4 linked regions of the Homo sapiens genome follow. The protein of the gene in region 1 interacts with the protein of each later gene in a biochemical or structural test. Each region holds a gene or a part of one and is shown in the gene's direction. Other genes may lie near its edges.

Region 1 (3,500 bases):
ATATTCATCAGAACAGAGAGCGCTCTTTGAAGTGATTGGATGCATCCATGCTCAGACAAGCTCGGTGGTCAAAGGGAAATTTTAAAGAGTGGCCCTGGAAGGAGTTAGCAAAGTTGCCTCTTCCTCTCTCTGCTCTGCACATCCCTCACAAACTGAATGTTATTTCTTTGGTTTGTTGTGCAGATGCAAGTAATTTAACTGTACTTTTTGCCCCCTGGGAGATGTGGGAAGTACAGTTGCTTTTACAGGATGGAGAATTTGCACTCATGATCAGAGAACTGAAACTTCCAGCCATCCTTTTTATTCAGAGTGTTTAAGGACCGGTGGTATTTCCAAATAGGCAGTAGGGCTTGTTCATGCTCTGCTTGTTCATTCTGCTTGTTCATTAATTGTTCACTACTTTTCTGAGTAGAGTTCATTGCTCTGTGATGTCGTGACAGAAGCTTTCATTTCCCCAGAAAGAGGAAGAAAACAGAAGTGCCCCCTCCAAATGGCATAGCCTTCACAACATTCAGTTTAAATGTTTTTAAGTATCTTAAAAGAGAAGAGTTATATATTGCTAAGTGTGTTCTTAGAATGTCTGTAGTTAGCACTTCTTTCAGGCTCTAGTTTTCTGGTTTTTCACTTTACATAATAATCCTCTATGTATTTAGGATCTTTATTTTTCACCTTTCCCGTTACCATATTTTTATTTCCTTCAAAATTCGAGGGAATTGCTTTTTCTCTCTACCTTTTTTAGATCAGTTTCCTAGTCTTTAACTGAGGTGTTAAAGTTGGAGTTTTTACTGGCAAGTCTTGACTGAGCACAGTGTTAGGCTCTGTGAGAGAGAATATGCATTTTCTATTTTCACAGAGCCACAGTCCAGGTGAGGAGATAATGAATTTGCATGCGAAAAATGAATATGTTGTGAGCTGATACAGACTTTTGTCAGGCCAGTCTTTCATAAAGAAGTATTTGGAATGGGCTTTGAAAATGCCTGAAATTCCAAAATGAAATAATATGAAATAATATTTATTAGTACGTATAGGGGCTGGGTAACATGCTCAAAGTTACAGAGGCAGAAAACCATAAGGTGTCTCACAGAAACTGAATATACTCATTTAACTGTGACAGATGGCTCATGCGAGAAAGTAGCAAAGGAGAAGCTTCATTCGTTCTATTAGTGTTAGAATGTGCTATGGAATCTGGATTTTATTATGATTGCAAAAGGATGGTATTGAAAACTTTGGAGTGGAAAATGACATTCTGAAGTATTTTGAGAATATGAATCTGCCTGTGGAGTACAGAATGGACATAGGTAAGAAGAGGCCTGGGGCCACAACTTTGTCAAAAGGGCACAAATAGAGTCTGAGAGAAAGAGGGTTTGAGACAGAATGGAAACAATGGGAAAGATGGAATGGACTCTGGAGGCAATGAACTGAGAACGGATCTGACCTCTGTGGCAAGGGGAGAGGAGGTGAGTGATGGGCTGTAAGAGAAGGTGGTAAGAAGACTCATAGATGATTCAGTCACACATAACCATAATTGCACCCCTGTTACCTAGGTGCTAGGTGATACAAAGAGATTAATCACATCAACAAAATGGTTAGGTAGACAGAGTAGGTATTTACAATGAAAAACTCAAAGTAGTCTCACATTGAAGACAGAGTGAGGCAATGAGCTCTCAGGAGTCAAGAGAAATATTCCTTGAAGTTTGGAGTCACAGAAGCATCAGGGAAGAGATGGAACATGAGCTGAATGTTGAATGATGGGTAGAATTTGGAAAGAATGACAGGGGCAATCAAAGCTGTGGGATGAGGAGGTTAAAGCAAAGACACAGGACTAAGAAAACACAAGGAGTGTTTGTGACACATTGACGAGGGCCATCTGGTTGGAACAGAGTTTGCATAAACCACCAAAAGAGGAAAAGGGGAAGGTAGGGTGATACGTTTATTCTGGTAAAGGTTTAGACACCAAGCTAAAGATTTTATTTTTATTTCTGAGATAGTCTCTCTCTGTCACCCAGGCTGGAGTGCAGTGGCGCTGTCTTGGTTCACTGCAACCTCCACCTCCCGAGTTCAAGCTATTCTCCTGCTTTAGCCTCCTGAGTAGCTGGGACTACAGGTGCCTGCCACCATGGGCAGCTAATTTTTGTATTTTTAGTAGAGTTGGTGTTTCATCATGTTGGCCAGGCTGGTATTGGACTCCCAAAGTGCTGGAATTACAGGCGTGAGCCACTGTGCCCTGCCAAGCTTTTATAATTTAACCTGGGAAATGTCAAGCCACTGACATTTTTCAGCAAGGTTGTGGCCAGTGTCAAAGAGTCTTTCGGGAAGTTTGGTTTGTGGAAGATGTGTAGAATATATCAAGATGAAGAACTGGGTGACTTCTAGTCAAAAAGGAATGATGATATAAACCAGGTACCAATCAGAATGAGAGGTATGGAAGAGGGGCAAAGGAATTACCAGTAAACCAAGGGGAAATAGAAATACAGTTTTACCCAAAGTTTCAAATCCAGGAGGCTATGATAGCAACTGTGCTGTATACTAAGGCATACAACTCATGAGATGACTGGTTTGGTAACAGTCCTGAGCGTTTTGTTTTAAAGAGCTGGGTCCTGAGGTTCCAGACAAGCAAACATGCCAAAAAAGTGGTTCAATGGGGGGGCTTGAGGCTCAGCTGGAAACCATGTTTACCATACCAAGTTTAAAAAATCCACACAGCTCAGCAATTGTTTGAAGTTTTTAATTAATTAATTAATTCATAAAGTGAAGTATTTTCAAAAGCTCATCTGAGAGCTTATATTCTCTTGATACAGATGAATTCTCAATTGCTCTTTTGTTTTCATTGCAAAACAGTTCAACTTGTATGAGACTCAAAGTGGGGAGGGCAGGAGCAGAATTTTCTCTGTTCCGGGTATAGACATTATGGGTATTGGGCCATATTCTCCTCTTCGTTGGTAATAATTCCTATTTTATACATCTTTCTATCAATTGCAGCTCCTACCAGAGTCAACGTCTTGATTGTAAATACTCAGTGTTGGTTGATTTGCATTTTCATCATAGTCCTGAAAGATAAAAGTGGACCTAAGAAAAACTAATAAGCTTACAGCCAGTTTTATAATGACAGACTCTATATAAACAAATGCAAATTGGATGTCAAATTTGAATTACAAAATTTATTTGAGCAAGGTCCAGGAAGTAATAACAGTGTCTTCAGATCTTTTCTAAAATGATAAAAATTCATTAACAATCTTCCATGGCTTGGAGTCTCAGAGACTTTCAAAAGTCACAGCACTTTGAAGAGCAGAGTTGGCAACTAAAGTTATCAGAGTGAAGAATGGCATGCTAACCTCAGGTGCAGGATGGCCAACTCAAAGTAGACCTCTATTCTTTGTTCTTCTGAGATAGGAACTAGCCAGAAACTTAGTTATTCAGGGGTGGGGTGGGAAGGCTGTGGGACCCAGGGTGGAAGGACCCACACAGTTCAAAATAAAACGAACCAACTATAGTGAAGGAAA
Region 2 (4,164 bases), on another chromosome or scaffold:
CTTACCTGCTTGCTTCTTCCAGTGCTCATCCCTGCCTCCTCCCTGGCTCCATGCCTGCCTTTCTGCTGAGGACTCGAGCATGGTGCTGAAGCTCACTTGCTTGGAATTGTCTTATGGTTTTCTTCTTTTCATAGTGTCCATCTCTATGATAACTAGATGTTTGAACAAAGGAGTTTATAATGCATGAACTGTGGACCAGTATTCCCTTGACTCTCATTTCTATAAGGATTTGAAAGCATTTCTTAGCTATCCTGGGGCAAGTTACAAACCTTTTGTTTCTGTGAGATGGGAGCCATTTGTACCAACTCTTCTTTGTGCACCCCTGATCGCAGTGATGCGTGCTTTAGTTGTAAGGCTGTTTTCCTTTGCTTCTGTCTCTAAACATATTTTAATTCCATCACGGAGAGTGAATTTTCCCACTGGATTCTGGGGTTCCAGAGATGTTCTCCACCCGCCTTCACCATCCTAAACAAACATCTTGAGACAATTGCTATTGTAGCTGTTGAGTCTTGGATATAAACACTTTTTTCCTTTTATTTTTAGTTGACATGGAATAATTATATGCAGTCATGGGATACAGAGCGATATTTTGATACATGTATGCAGTGTGTACGGATCAAGTCAGCGTAATTAGCATATCCATCATCTGGAACATTTATTCTTTCTTTGTGTTGTGAACATTCAAAACCCTCACTCCTGGCTTCTTTTCTTTGTCTCTCTCTCTCTCTTTTTAATAGCTTTATTGAGAATTCACAATACCATACAATCCATCTACTTAAAGTGTACAATTCAGTGATTTTTTTAGTATAGTCACAGAATTGTGCAATCATCACCACAATCCATTTTAGAACATTTTAAATACCCCAAAAGGAAACCCTGCACCCCTTAGCTGTCACCTCAACTCTCCCATTCTCTGCAGCCCTAGGAAACCACGAATCTACTTTTTATCTCTGAAGACTGACCTATTCTGGATATTTCACATAAATGGAATCATACAATATGTGGTCCTTTTTGACTGCCTTCTTTTATTTAGCATAATGTTTTCAAAGTTCATCCCTGTTGTAGCATCTCTCAGCACTCCATTCCTTTCACTGCTGAGTAATACTCCACTGGATGGATATTCCAGATTTTGTCCATTCATCAGTTGATAGGCATTTTGGTTGTTTCTACTTTTTGCTTTTACAAATAAGGATGCTTTGAACATTCATGTACAAGTTTTTGTGTGGACATTATGGTTTCATCTTTCTTGGGTATATGTCAAGGAGTATAGTTGCTGGGTCCTGTGGTAAGTCTATGTTTTCTTTATTTTTAATTTTTTAATTGATATGTAATATCTGTACATAAATACATATTTATGGGATATCTGTGATATTTTGATACATGCATGGAGTATGTAATCTTTTAGCTTCTTTTTGATGTGTATTTCTATTCTAGGCATGGAGAATGGTGGAAAGCAAAGTCCCTTTTAACAAAAAAAGAAGGCTTCATCCCCAGCAACTATGTGGCCAAACTCAACACCTTAGAAACAGAAGAGTGAGTCCTCATGTGTTGTCATCTTGGTGGCTTTATTTGCCACATTGGATTTCTTGTTAATATTCTTCACCTTTTTCTTGCCGTGGAACATAATATGCAGGAAATGTTGAAATGTCTTCACAGGTGGTTTTTCAAGGATATAACCAGGAAGGACGCAGAAAGGCAGCTTTTGGCACCAGGAAATAGCGCTGGAGCTTTCCTTATTAGAGAAAGTGAAACATTAAAAGGTAGGAAATTGTTCAAAGCCTCTTTTAAAACACTATTTAGGAAATTATTTTTAGAAACTATTCTAGAGCTACTCAAGGGGAAAAAAGGGCATATAGTATGCTCTGGTAGTAAAAGTTTTATGGTTTGATAACAAATAACAAACCTCAGTGATTAGTTGTGCTACTAAAAGTAATATAGTTGAGTGTGGTGGCTCACACCTGTAATCCTAACACTTTGGGAGGCTGAGGCGAGAGGATCACTTGAGTCCAGCAGTTAGAGACCAGCCTGGGCAACACAGCAAGACCCCATCTCTACAAGAAATACAAAACTTAGCCAGGCCTGGCAGCACATGCCTATAGTCCCAGCTACTCTGGAGGCTGAGGTAGGAAGATCACCTGAACCCAGGGAAGGGAGGCTGCAGTGAGCCGTGATCACGCCACTGCACTCTAACTAGCCTGAGTGACAGAGTGAGGCACTGTCTCAAAAAAAAAAGAGAAAAGAAAAGAAAAGTACTGTAGAAAGCACACATGATTGTGGCCAGTTCTTACCAGGCTTTGTTTGCTGAGCCTTTTGCATTATTATTTGAATAAATCCTGAAGTTTTAAGACAAAGAAAATTAGGCTGGGCGTGGTGGCTCAGGCCTGTAATCCCAATGCTTTGGGAGGCCGAGACTGAGAATCACTTGAACCCAGCAGTTTGATACCAGCCTGGGCAACATAGCAAGAGCCTGTTTCTATAAGAAATTAAAAAATTAGCCAGCTGTGGTGGTGCATGATCGTAGTCTCAGCTACTTGAGAGGTTGGGGTAGAAAGATCGTTTGAGCCCAAGAGGTGGAGGCTGCAGTTAGCTATGATTGTGCCACTCTACTCTAGCCTGGGTGACAGAGCAACAACCTATTTCAAAAAAAAAAAAAAGAAAATCAAAGTAACTTAAAAAAATTTAAATGTAGCTAAATAATAATTTTAAAAAAATTATCATGAAGAAAGAAAATGGTATGTTGGCAAGCTACACAGCAAACAAAATGCCAGCTTCATTTGTCAAGTAGAATTTTTATAGGACTTTTAAAATTATGCATTTTATACAAATTTCATAAATATATGTATTTTGCATATTTGTATCACAAAATGTGTACTGCAGTTGTTGTATAATGCAGATCTTATTTGTGAGATATAAACATTTACTTACACTTTTCCCCCCATAGGAAGCTTCTCTCTGTCTGTCAGAGACTTTGACCCTGTGCATGGTGATGTTATTAAGCACTACAAAATTAGAAGTCTGGATAATGGGGGCTATTACATCTCTCCACGAATCACTTTTCCCTGTATCAGCGACATGATTAAACATTACCAAAGTAAGTAAAAACTGAAGGTTCAACAAGACAAGATATATTTGTTATGATATGTATAAGACGTCAAACGCTATTTTTATATTAAAACTTTTTATGCATCGTATTTCTCTTAGATACAGTTGCAGGTCATATTCTATAAGTGGTTCTAAATTAATCTATAGTTAGGCCAGGCACAGTGGCTCACGCCTGTAATCCCAGCACTTTGGGAGGCCAAGGCAGGTGGATCACTTGAGGTCAGGAGTTCGAGACCAGCCTGGCCAACCTGGTGATACCCCATCTCTACTAGAAAAAAAAAAAATTAGCCAGGCATAGTGGTGCGTGCCTGTAGTCCCAGCTACTCGGGAGGCTGAGGCAGGAGAATCACTTGAACACAGGAGGCGGAGATTGCAGTGAGCTGAGATCGCGCCACTGCACTCCAGCCTGGGTGACAGAGCAAGACTCTGTCTCAAAAAACAAATACTAAAATAAAAGCAATTAATTAATCTACAGTTAAATACACAAAGTAAGATTTGATCCTTGTGAATAATTCTCCCAGTCCTTCCCACCTAGTACATGCTGTTTGACATTCAGTGTTCCACAATTACCAAGAGAAAAATATATATTGTCTTTGCATATATTTTTACAATGCATCTGAATATCTGGAATAGGAATGCAGATTTGCAGATCTGTGTTTGTGTGTGTGTGTGTAAAAGTAATGTATATTCTTGGTAAAGTCAAACGGATATAACACTACCACTGAAATATTTAGAAGTGGCAGGTCAATGTCCCTGTCTCCAGTGCCACTTTGCAGTCCTGAGAAGCCTGGGCCTGAGACTCTGGGTCCCTTTCCTGTGTAATTGGAGTCAGTTGAGTGGTTGTTGCCCCGGCTCCTTTCTATGACCTGCTCGAAGGGGATGCACATTATAGGTTTGCTTGAGTCCCAAAACACGGAGAGAGCAACGTGCTTCCGATTTTGTAGATTCTTGCCTTCCTCCGCCCTCCCATTCCTGTGTGCATCCGGCACATGCTGAGGGCTTGTGGTACTCTGGCTGTGTTCTGGGGCCTGGGGTCCAGTGGTGACATGACCGAGTCCCCAC
Region 3 (4,164 bases), on another chromosome or scaffold:
AGAGGGGATCCCAGCCCCTTGAAGTTTCAGGATGCGGCACGCTGGCTCACAGTGCTATGTGCTGTGGGCGGAGCCTCCGGAGCTTGGATCCTAGCTTCTCTGTTGGTGCCAGCAGGCTGCTCTTGTGTTTTGGGAGAAAGTGCTCCAGAAGCAACACATGCCTACCTGGTGCCACTTTCACAGCCTTTCAATGTAAGGAGGACATAGGCTGAAGTCAGTAGCAGGGCAAGGTGGTATCTGGAGTTCCCCTTTAATGCTCTGAAACCTGTAAAGAAAATTACATCTCGAAGATAAAAGAACAAACTCATTGCATGTCTGTTTGAATGCCAGGTGTGTTTTTTTTTAATGGGGATTGGTGATTCTAGAGCATAGCACTGTAAAAGAAAGGATGTATACAAAAGCTTTGACATTTAGAACCATGGTCTGGCCAGTGTCCTGCCATCATTCCTGCAGGCACACCATGACTGACTGCGCTAATTCCCCAGAAGGGCCATGTCAGGCTTACATGTTTGCCCTCAGCCTACAGAGTCCACCCCACTGCCTTGATCTAGTTGATGTGATCATAACGAAACCTGTATTGCTCATCAGTATTGAAGCTGTTGGTAGGCCATAGATTGCTTGACCTTCCTGCTACTTCTAAAATGAAGGTTTTTGTGGGATGTTGGAAAGGACTGCTTTGGAGGGCAGCATTGTTGGATGGTGGTTTTGAGGATTTGTCGTTATTTCCAGAATGGCATTATCCCTGGTAAAATGTGTTGGAAGAATAGGGTGGGAAGTGTCAGGTGAGCAGAGCAATGTGGTCTTGAAGTCACATGATGAACTTGGGAATGCTAATAAAAGCCAGAGTCTGGCCAGTCATGGCATTGCATTGGTTAAGTAGGATTAGCCCTGTGGGGCCTTCATTAGGGCGGTTAGTTTGAAGGCTGTCCTGGAAGTTGGAGAGTGACATGGGAAGATGTCTGTCCAGCCAGGAGAACACACACTGGAATGAGAACCAGAGGAGCAGAATGCATAGCAAGGCCTCTGTCCGTTTCTCTTGGCAAGCTCTGTTGAGTATGGCACGTCTAGGAACGTGATGGGATCTTGGCCCTCCCTGTTGGTTTCATAGAACTAAATGATCAGTAACTTAAATAACATTCAACAGTCTGTAGCAGAAGAGCCTGTATGTTAAGAGAGGCCTCAAGGGAAAGGGAGGCAGCCCTGGGGAACTGTGTGTTGAAAGGTGGGTCTGAACCGTGGAGTTTGGGGCTGGATTTGACAGCTCTTGGATGCTGAGTTAAGGACTGTGTTGACATGGGAGGAGAGGAAATTAATCAGATCAGCAGACTGAAAGTAGGGCTGCTCCAGCACACAGCTTGAGAGTGGGCTCTGGCAGGATGAGAGGTAGGTGAGTGTGGTGATGTGATGTGGGAATGAACAGCAGAAGATACCTGAGGGGGAGGGTCAAGGTACCTGGGTAGGAATTTCAGTTGACCTCGAGATCACCAGCCTGGGTAATCATAGGTGCCCTAGACTGAGGAAAAACCAAAGGAAATGGGAACAGATTAAGGTTGCAGATGCCTTGCAGCCAACCACTTGGCTTAACCTAGGACAGGTGGGAACTATTTGATAATAGCATATAACACATTGTGCCTCTTGGGTTAGCTTCATATTATTTTAATTGAACTAATAAGAATTGATTTGCGAATCTCTCTTAGCCAATCCAAGAACATATGTATACATCTAACCATCCACTTCTTCTTTTTAACCTCAGGTTAACCCCAAAGATTGGCTTTCCTTGGAGTGAAATCAGGAACATCTCTTTCAATGACAAAAAGTTTGTCATTAAACCCATCGACAAGAAGGCACCTGTAAGTTCCAAAGGATTCTATTCAGGGGCTACTGTTTTTCATTCTTATACTTGTCAGGGTAACGGACAAGTTATACTGTGACGAGTAGCCAGTGATAGTCCAAACTCCTCATGAGGTTACATTGAGGGCCAGAGATCCTGTGGGCCAGGCAATTGCTGCAGGGGAGACCACTTAACTTTTCAAATGATTCTCATTCCTTATGAAGAAAAGGGCAGTTCTGAGCCATTGGCCAAATGATAAGCATTTCCCAAAATGCTGTGTTTTTGGTGTGGAGAGCCAGCCTGTCCCCTTGACCACCTGGGTGCAGGGACTCTCCCCGGCACCTGACGGACAGTGGGACCTGCGAGTCTCAAGGGCCAGATTTGCCTTTCAGAGCTGTCCTGGAACTTACCCAAGATAGGGACAGTCAGACTTGCACCCAAGCATTGCTGGTGCCCAAGGTTTCATCGGGGCTTCACCCACTTCTGTTGTCAGAGGTGTGCATCCTCACACAGGTGACACTGGCAGGCAGTCATTTTGGGAGGACATGGTAAGAAGGCGACACTTTATGTCCTGAAATCTGATAGTATTGATTGTAATAGCTGCAAAGACCAGTGCATTATGTAAATTTGGTTTTATTTATTCTGCTGACATTTAAACTTTTGTTAACTCAGAATATTTGAGACATACGCACATAACTGTAGCATTGTAGAATGGGTAAGGATTTTGTTATCTAATCAGAAATCTAGTTCTCTAAAAAATTGCCACCTGAAGAAATTCTGTTACCACCTTAGAGCCTGTTCTGAATTTTACGAAAATTATAGATTGGAAAGGACTTTGTGTTCTCATGTAATTTTGGTTCCTTAGTTACAGTGTTAAGCTTGGAGAGGCAAACATGGGCTGTGGTCCATACCTTGGTTGTCTTGTTAACCCTTTTGGGACTGGGTACTGCTTAGCAATGGTAAATCCACTTAGAACAGTATGTGGTGTTATTGTCCTGTTACTTCTCCCCACATACAGGTTTGTCTAGCATAATTTAAAATCAGCAGGTCTTGACAATTTTGTGAAAGTATTTTCTTCTTTGTTAAAAACGTCTTGGCCAGGCTCAGTGGCTCACGCCTGTAATCCCAGGACCTTGGGAGGCTGAGATGGCCGAATCACGAGGTCAGGAGTTCGAGACCAGCCTGGCCAACACAGTGAAAACCCCATCTCTACTAAAAATACAAAAATTATCTGGGCGTGGTGGTGGGCGCCTGTAATCTCAGCTGCTCGGGAGGCTGAGGCAGGAGAATCGCTTGAACCCAGGAAGCAGAGGTTGCAGTGAGCTGAGATCGCCACTGCACTCAAGCCTGGGTGACAGAGCTAGACTCCGTCTCAAAAAAAAAAAAAAAAAAGGGCTCCTGCTGTTTGCAAACTCTTGGCTGCTACTCTGTGGGTAGTTGCACGGTTATTTAAAATTAAACGCGTATTGAATGCAGACTCTAAGGCTCCATGGCAGCAGTTCATATTATGCAACAGCATGAATGGAGGGTCATAGCGTCTTCATGTCACTTGGGTAGTAAGATTGGCACAGTTTAGAAGAGCAAGAAAATGCTGAAATCTCTTCATCAGTAGGCTACTACGTACTCTGTGACGCTACTGCCTTTTCAGAACACTTATTAAAAATTTGACTAGAGCAGCAGCTCTGGACTAGACTGTTTCAGAATGTTTGTGCGTGTGTGTGTGTGTGTGTGTGTGTGTGTGTGTGTGTGTGTGTTTGATGATAAGTCCATCTCTTGAAAAGCTGAAGAATATTTTCATAATAAGCCCCAAGCAGAAGCCATTGTAACGCATCTCGTGCATGTGCCTTTATTATAGAGTAGCCTCATGTGAAGCCATCTCGTAAGCAAAAGAAACATTCGCTGGTGGCACGCTGTCCCAGGCACTCTTCCAGGGCTGTGTGCACCATCAACAAGGCAAAGCTCCTACCCTGGTGAGCCTACATTTACGTGAAGGAAAGGGTTAAAAAGGCAACTGAGATGCTTCCTGGTAGTAAATTTAACAGTACAGCTGTGATTAAAAACTAAGCCGGATCAGAAGATGGGGGTGAGATTCCTTTAGGCAGGTTGGGCAGGAGCCACACTGAGGAGGCAGCATTTGCCTTGAGTGGGCACTGCTGGTTTGAGGAGGTGGAGTTCTGTCACCCCCACAGCACCCCAGGGCTGCTCGAGGCACTGCCCCACCTCAGTCTGTAAACTTTGGGCAGAAGAAGTTCAAGTTTTCGACATCGAACTTTCTTGTAAAAAAGAAGAGGCCCAAAGTTTGAGGCGGTGGGATTCCTTATCTTGTGTTGACT
Region 4 (4,164 bases), on another chromosome or scaffold:
CAACTATCATTGGGCAAGCCATGCTAGGTATGCATGCCTTTGGGGCTCTGCAGGGGATAGCGCTATGCAGGGATGGTTGAGAGCTGGTTTTGGGGTTGAGACACGTGGGAAATACTTGGACTTTGGGCTGAGCCTGTGGTGCTCAATCCCGGCTGCATGTTGGGACCACAGGGAGATGACAAAACCATCCCCAGCCCTCACCCTAGGGCCCTCGAATGAGCATCTCAGGGGTCTAGGAGGCCTCCACAAAGACCTACTGATTGGCACACACTTGTTTCTCTAGGAAGAGAACTTACAGCTGCAGGCAGGAGCATGTCTTAATCTGCTTGGGCTGCCATAAGTACCACAGACTGGGAGGGTTTAACAACAGAAATGTGTTATCTCACAGTTCTGGAAGCTAGAAGCCTGGGAGCCAGCCATCAGCAGAGTTGGTTTCCTCTGGGTCCTCTATCCTTGGCTTGTAGATGGCCGTCTTCTCTCTGTGTCCCCACATGGTCTTCCCTCTGTGTCCCCACATGGTCTTCCCTCTGTGTGTGTCCATGTCCTCATCTCCTCTTCTCATAAGGACACAGGTCATATTAGATCAGGGCTCACCCTCATGGCCTCATTTTAACTTAATCATCTCTTTAAAGATCCTGTCTCCAAATAATGGTCACATTCTGAGGTCCTGGGGTTGAGGACTTCAACACGGGCATTATGGCCGTTGGGGGAGGTAGGACATAATTCAGCTGATATTGGTGCATTTTGCACTTGGATCATGTAGATATTTTCCATGGAGCTTTGAATCCATTTCTTCTTTTTTTTGTAGACATGAATGGATTTATTCTGGGCTAAATGGTGACAGGGAATATTGAGACAATGAAAGATCTGGTTAGATGGCACTTAAAGGTCAGTTAATAACCACCTTTCACCCTTTGCAAAATGATATTTCAGGGTATGCGGAAGCGAGCACCCCAGTCTGAGATGGCTCCTGCCGGTGTGAGCCTGAGGGCCACCATCCTCTGCCTCCTGGCCTGGGCTGGCCTGGCTGCAGGTGACCGGGTGTACATACACCCCTTCCACCTCGTCATCCACAATGAGAGTACCTGTGAGCAGCTGGCAAAGGCCAATGCCGGGAAGCCCAAAGACCCCACCTTCATACCTGCTCCAATTCAGGCCAAGACATCCCCTGTGGATGAAAAGGCCCTACAGGACCAGCTGGTGCTAGTCGCTGCAAAACTTGACACCGAAGACAAGTTGAGGGCCGCAATGGTCGGGATGCTGGCCAACTTCTTGGGCTTCCGTATATATGGCATGCACAGTGAGCTATGGGGCGTGGTCCATGGGGCCACCGTCCTCTCCCCAACGGCTGTCTTTGGCACCCTGGCCTCTCTCTATCTGGGAGCCTTGGACCACACAGCTGACAGGCTACAGGCAATCCTGGGTGTTCCTTGGAAGGACAAGAACTGCACCTCCCGGCTGGATGCGCACAAGGTCCTGTCTGCCCTGCAGGCTGTACAGGGCCTGCTAGTGGCCCAGGGCAGGGCTGATAGCCAGGCCCAGCTGCTGCTGTCCACGGTGGTGGGCGTGTTCACAGCCCCAGGCCTGCACCTGAAGCAGCCGTTTGTGCAGGGCCTGGCTCTCTATACCCCTGTGGTCCTCCCACGCTCTCTGGACTTCACAGAACTGGATGTTGCTGCTGAGAAGATTGACAGGTTCATGCAGGCTGTGACAGGATGGAAGACTGGCTGCTCCCTGATGGGAGCCAGTGTGGACAGCACCCTGGCTTTCAACACCTACGTCCACTTCCAAGGTAAGGCAAACCTCTCTGCTGGCTCTGGCCCTAGGACTTAGTATCCAATGTGTAGCTGAGATCAGCCAGTCAGGCCTTGGAGATGGGCAGGGGGCAGCCCTGCGGACATACCTGGTGACCACCCTTGAGAAGTGGGGAAGTGGCTGCTCCGCTGGGTCCCTGGATGGGCCGTCCACCTCCTGGACCTGCTGCCCTACTATGTGCACGACTATACAACATCCTTTTTCTTACATCATTTAATCCCCTTATGATGTGGTGAAGAGGTATTTGTGCCTTTGTTTACCAGTGAAGAAATAGAGACTCGGAGAAACAAAGTGCCTTGCTCAAGATGGCACAGCCACCAGTGGGGGTCCTGGGATTGAAACCCACATCTCCTGGCCCCACAGCCCAGTTCTACACTCAGAAGGGTCAGGTTCATATCTCTTGAGAAGGTCAGGAACTGGGGTCCCTGGCCCATGCAGAAATAAGCAATTGGCTTGCTTAAATCCCTTTCATGTTAGGAGGGGCATTACTGAAAACCCTCTACTACAAAGATTGTTGATTTTTTTTTTTTTTTTTATTGAGACAGGGTCTTGTTCTGTCACCCAGGCTGCAGTGTAGTGGTGCCATCATTGCTCACTGTAGCCTTGAACTCCTGGCCTCAAGCGATCCTCCCACCTCTGCCTTCCAAAGTGTTGGGATTAAAGGTGTGAGCCACTGCACCCAGCCACAGATTGCTTAAAGCATTCATTTAACAAATACTTGTTGAGGATTTGCTACTTGTAAGACTTTAAGCCTGGCATCTCAGAGGAGGCCAGAGGAGGGCTGTATAGGCCCTGCCTCCAGGCTTTTAAAGGTCAATGGGCAAATGCCTAGGATTTGGAGCTGCAGGGAAACGTGCTCCACAAGGTAACTCAGGGAAGCCTCGGGGCTCTCAGAGGACAGAGGTCACTGGGGAGCGGAGAGCAGGCCTTGCCTGGCAGTGAGGGCAACAGGGCTGGTGAAGCTAGGAGCAAGCATGATGAGCCCAGCCTGCAGAGTTTGGGGCAAGGAACGAGGATGGGGCGGTTGGCTTGGCATGAGTGTTGAACCAGAAAATGGGCCTGGGGAGGGCAGAGCTGGAGACACTTTGAACGCCATGCTTGGTAGGTGTGGGAATGGGGACGCGTTCTGTTCAGAGGTCATCCCGGAAGCCTGCCGTGTGCAGACTGGAGGCAGGGAGGATTGTTTGAAGGTTACGCAAGAGTCCAGGCACACAGTCACGGGAACACGTGCTCAGGGAGCAGCTCGGCAAATCCATGGGTGGGGTGGGGCTGAGGGGTGTGTCTAAGAGACACTGAGGAGGCTCTGTCAAGATGTTAACCTCGTGAGGGACAGAGAGCCAGGCGGGAGGTGAAAGACAAGACTGTGGAGAAAGAGGTTCAGTGGCGCATAGTGATTTTTCTTACCACAACAACCTCCTTGAGGTCTTTCCCTTCGGGTTCAGGGAGAGGTGATAGATGGGGGGATTGCTCAGCCCTGGCACTGACTGGTCACAGGGGCAGAGGCCAGCCCGAGGGTTGCCCGGTTGAGGGTGGCAGCACACTGTGCAGGGCAGAGCAGGGACACATGGACTTAGCCTGCTGTCCCTAGGAGAAGTGCTGGGAGGAGCGCTCACTGAGAAGGAGGGTCCTGCAGAAGGCAAAGGCAAGAAAGCCAGTGGCATCTGAAATGGGTCTCCCTTCGAAAGAGAGCACATCCACCTGACCCAGACCGCAGAGCCAGGCCAGGAGGAAGAGGAGGAAGAATAAAAAAGCCAACCACATCGGGACTCAAAGGAAGCCCAGGATCCTCGCCGGCCTCCACCGCATGCTGCCCTGACCCTGCCCCACTTCCTAACTTTGCTGGCCTCAGTTTCCGTCAAAGGAGGCAGCCACTTCCTGCCCACATGGTCTGTCCAGTGAGGAGATCGGGGGCTGTCTCGGGACCTCTAGGTTTCCCTTTAGCAATGATGTTCTATTTACATGACCTCAGCAGGCAGCTAGATGTGTCCCACTAGAGAGGACCTGAGGATCTGGGGCCTGATGGGCTCCAGGGTACCGTCTGCCCAGTGCTTGCTGTGCTCCTGAGCATGGGGCGCTGGCCCTGGTGGTTTCCATGACACCAGGTCCTGACTTGACCTCGACAGATTTACCTAGCCTCCGGATGAGAATGGTGAGCTGTGCATGTCAGACGAGCAGAGGGAAGACGGCAGCCACTCTCATGTCAAATCCCAGCGTCTTTTGGGAGGCAGCTTCCCTTTTTTAGTTTAGTTTGTTGGAAGAAAAGAATTGTCCCTTTCCCCCCTCTAAACTAAAAGCCTTGCCAGCCCAGGTGGGCAGCACCGAGGTCCCTGCAGGGAACGTGCAAGGGGA

What was found.
Region 2: the proteins of MME (region 1) and LYN form a complex in vitro, tested with the Homo sapiens proteins (one study listed by BioGRID).
Region 3: the proteins of MME (region 1) and EZR form a complex in vitro, tested with the Homo sapiens proteins (one study listed by BioGRID).
Region 4: of the proteins of MME (region 1) and AGT, one has a biochemical effect on the other in vitro, tested with the Homo sapiens proteins (one study listed by BioGRID).

Annotation. Positions count from the first base shown.
Region 1 is NC_000003.12:155,111,319-155,114,818, forward strand, and holds part of MME (neprilysin), read left to right. Parts: intron 1-3,500. UniProt on the Homo sapiens protein: Thermolysin-like specificity, but is almost confined on acting on polypeptides of up to 30 amino acids. Biologically important in the destruction of opioid peptides such as Met- and Leu-enkephalins by cleavage of a Gly-Phe bond.
Region 2 is NC_000008.11:55,949,025-55,953,188, forward strand, and holds part of LYN (tyrosine-protein kinase Lyn), read left to right. Parts: intron 1-1,434; coding exon 1,435-1,533; intron 1,534-1,656; coding exon 1,657-1,760; intron 1,761-2,941; coding exon 2,942-3,091; intron 3,092-4,164. UniProt on the Homo sapiens protein: Non-receptor tyrosine-protein kinase that transmits signals from cell surface receptors and plays an important role in the regulation of innate and adaptive immune responses, hematopoiesis, responses to growth factors and cytokines, integrin signaling, but also responses to DNA damage and genotoxic agents.
Region 3 is NC_000006.12:158,774,094-158,778,257, reverse strand, and holds part of EZR (ezrin), read left to right. Parts: intron 1-1,753; coding exon 1,754-1,850; intron 1,851-4,164. UniProt on the Homo sapiens protein: Probably involved in connections of major cytoskeletal structures to the plasma membrane. In epithelial cells, required for the formation of microvilli and membrane ruffles on the apical pole. Along with PLEKHG6, required for normal macropinocytosis.
Region 4 is NC_000001.11:230,707,623-230,711,786, reverse strand, and holds part of AGT (angiotensinogen precursor), read left to right. Parts: intron 1-933; 5' UTR 934-963; coding exon 964-1,792; intron 1,793-4,164. UniProt on the Homo sapiens protein: Essential component of the renin-angiotensin system (RAS), a potent regulator of blood pressure, body fluid and electrolyte homeostasis.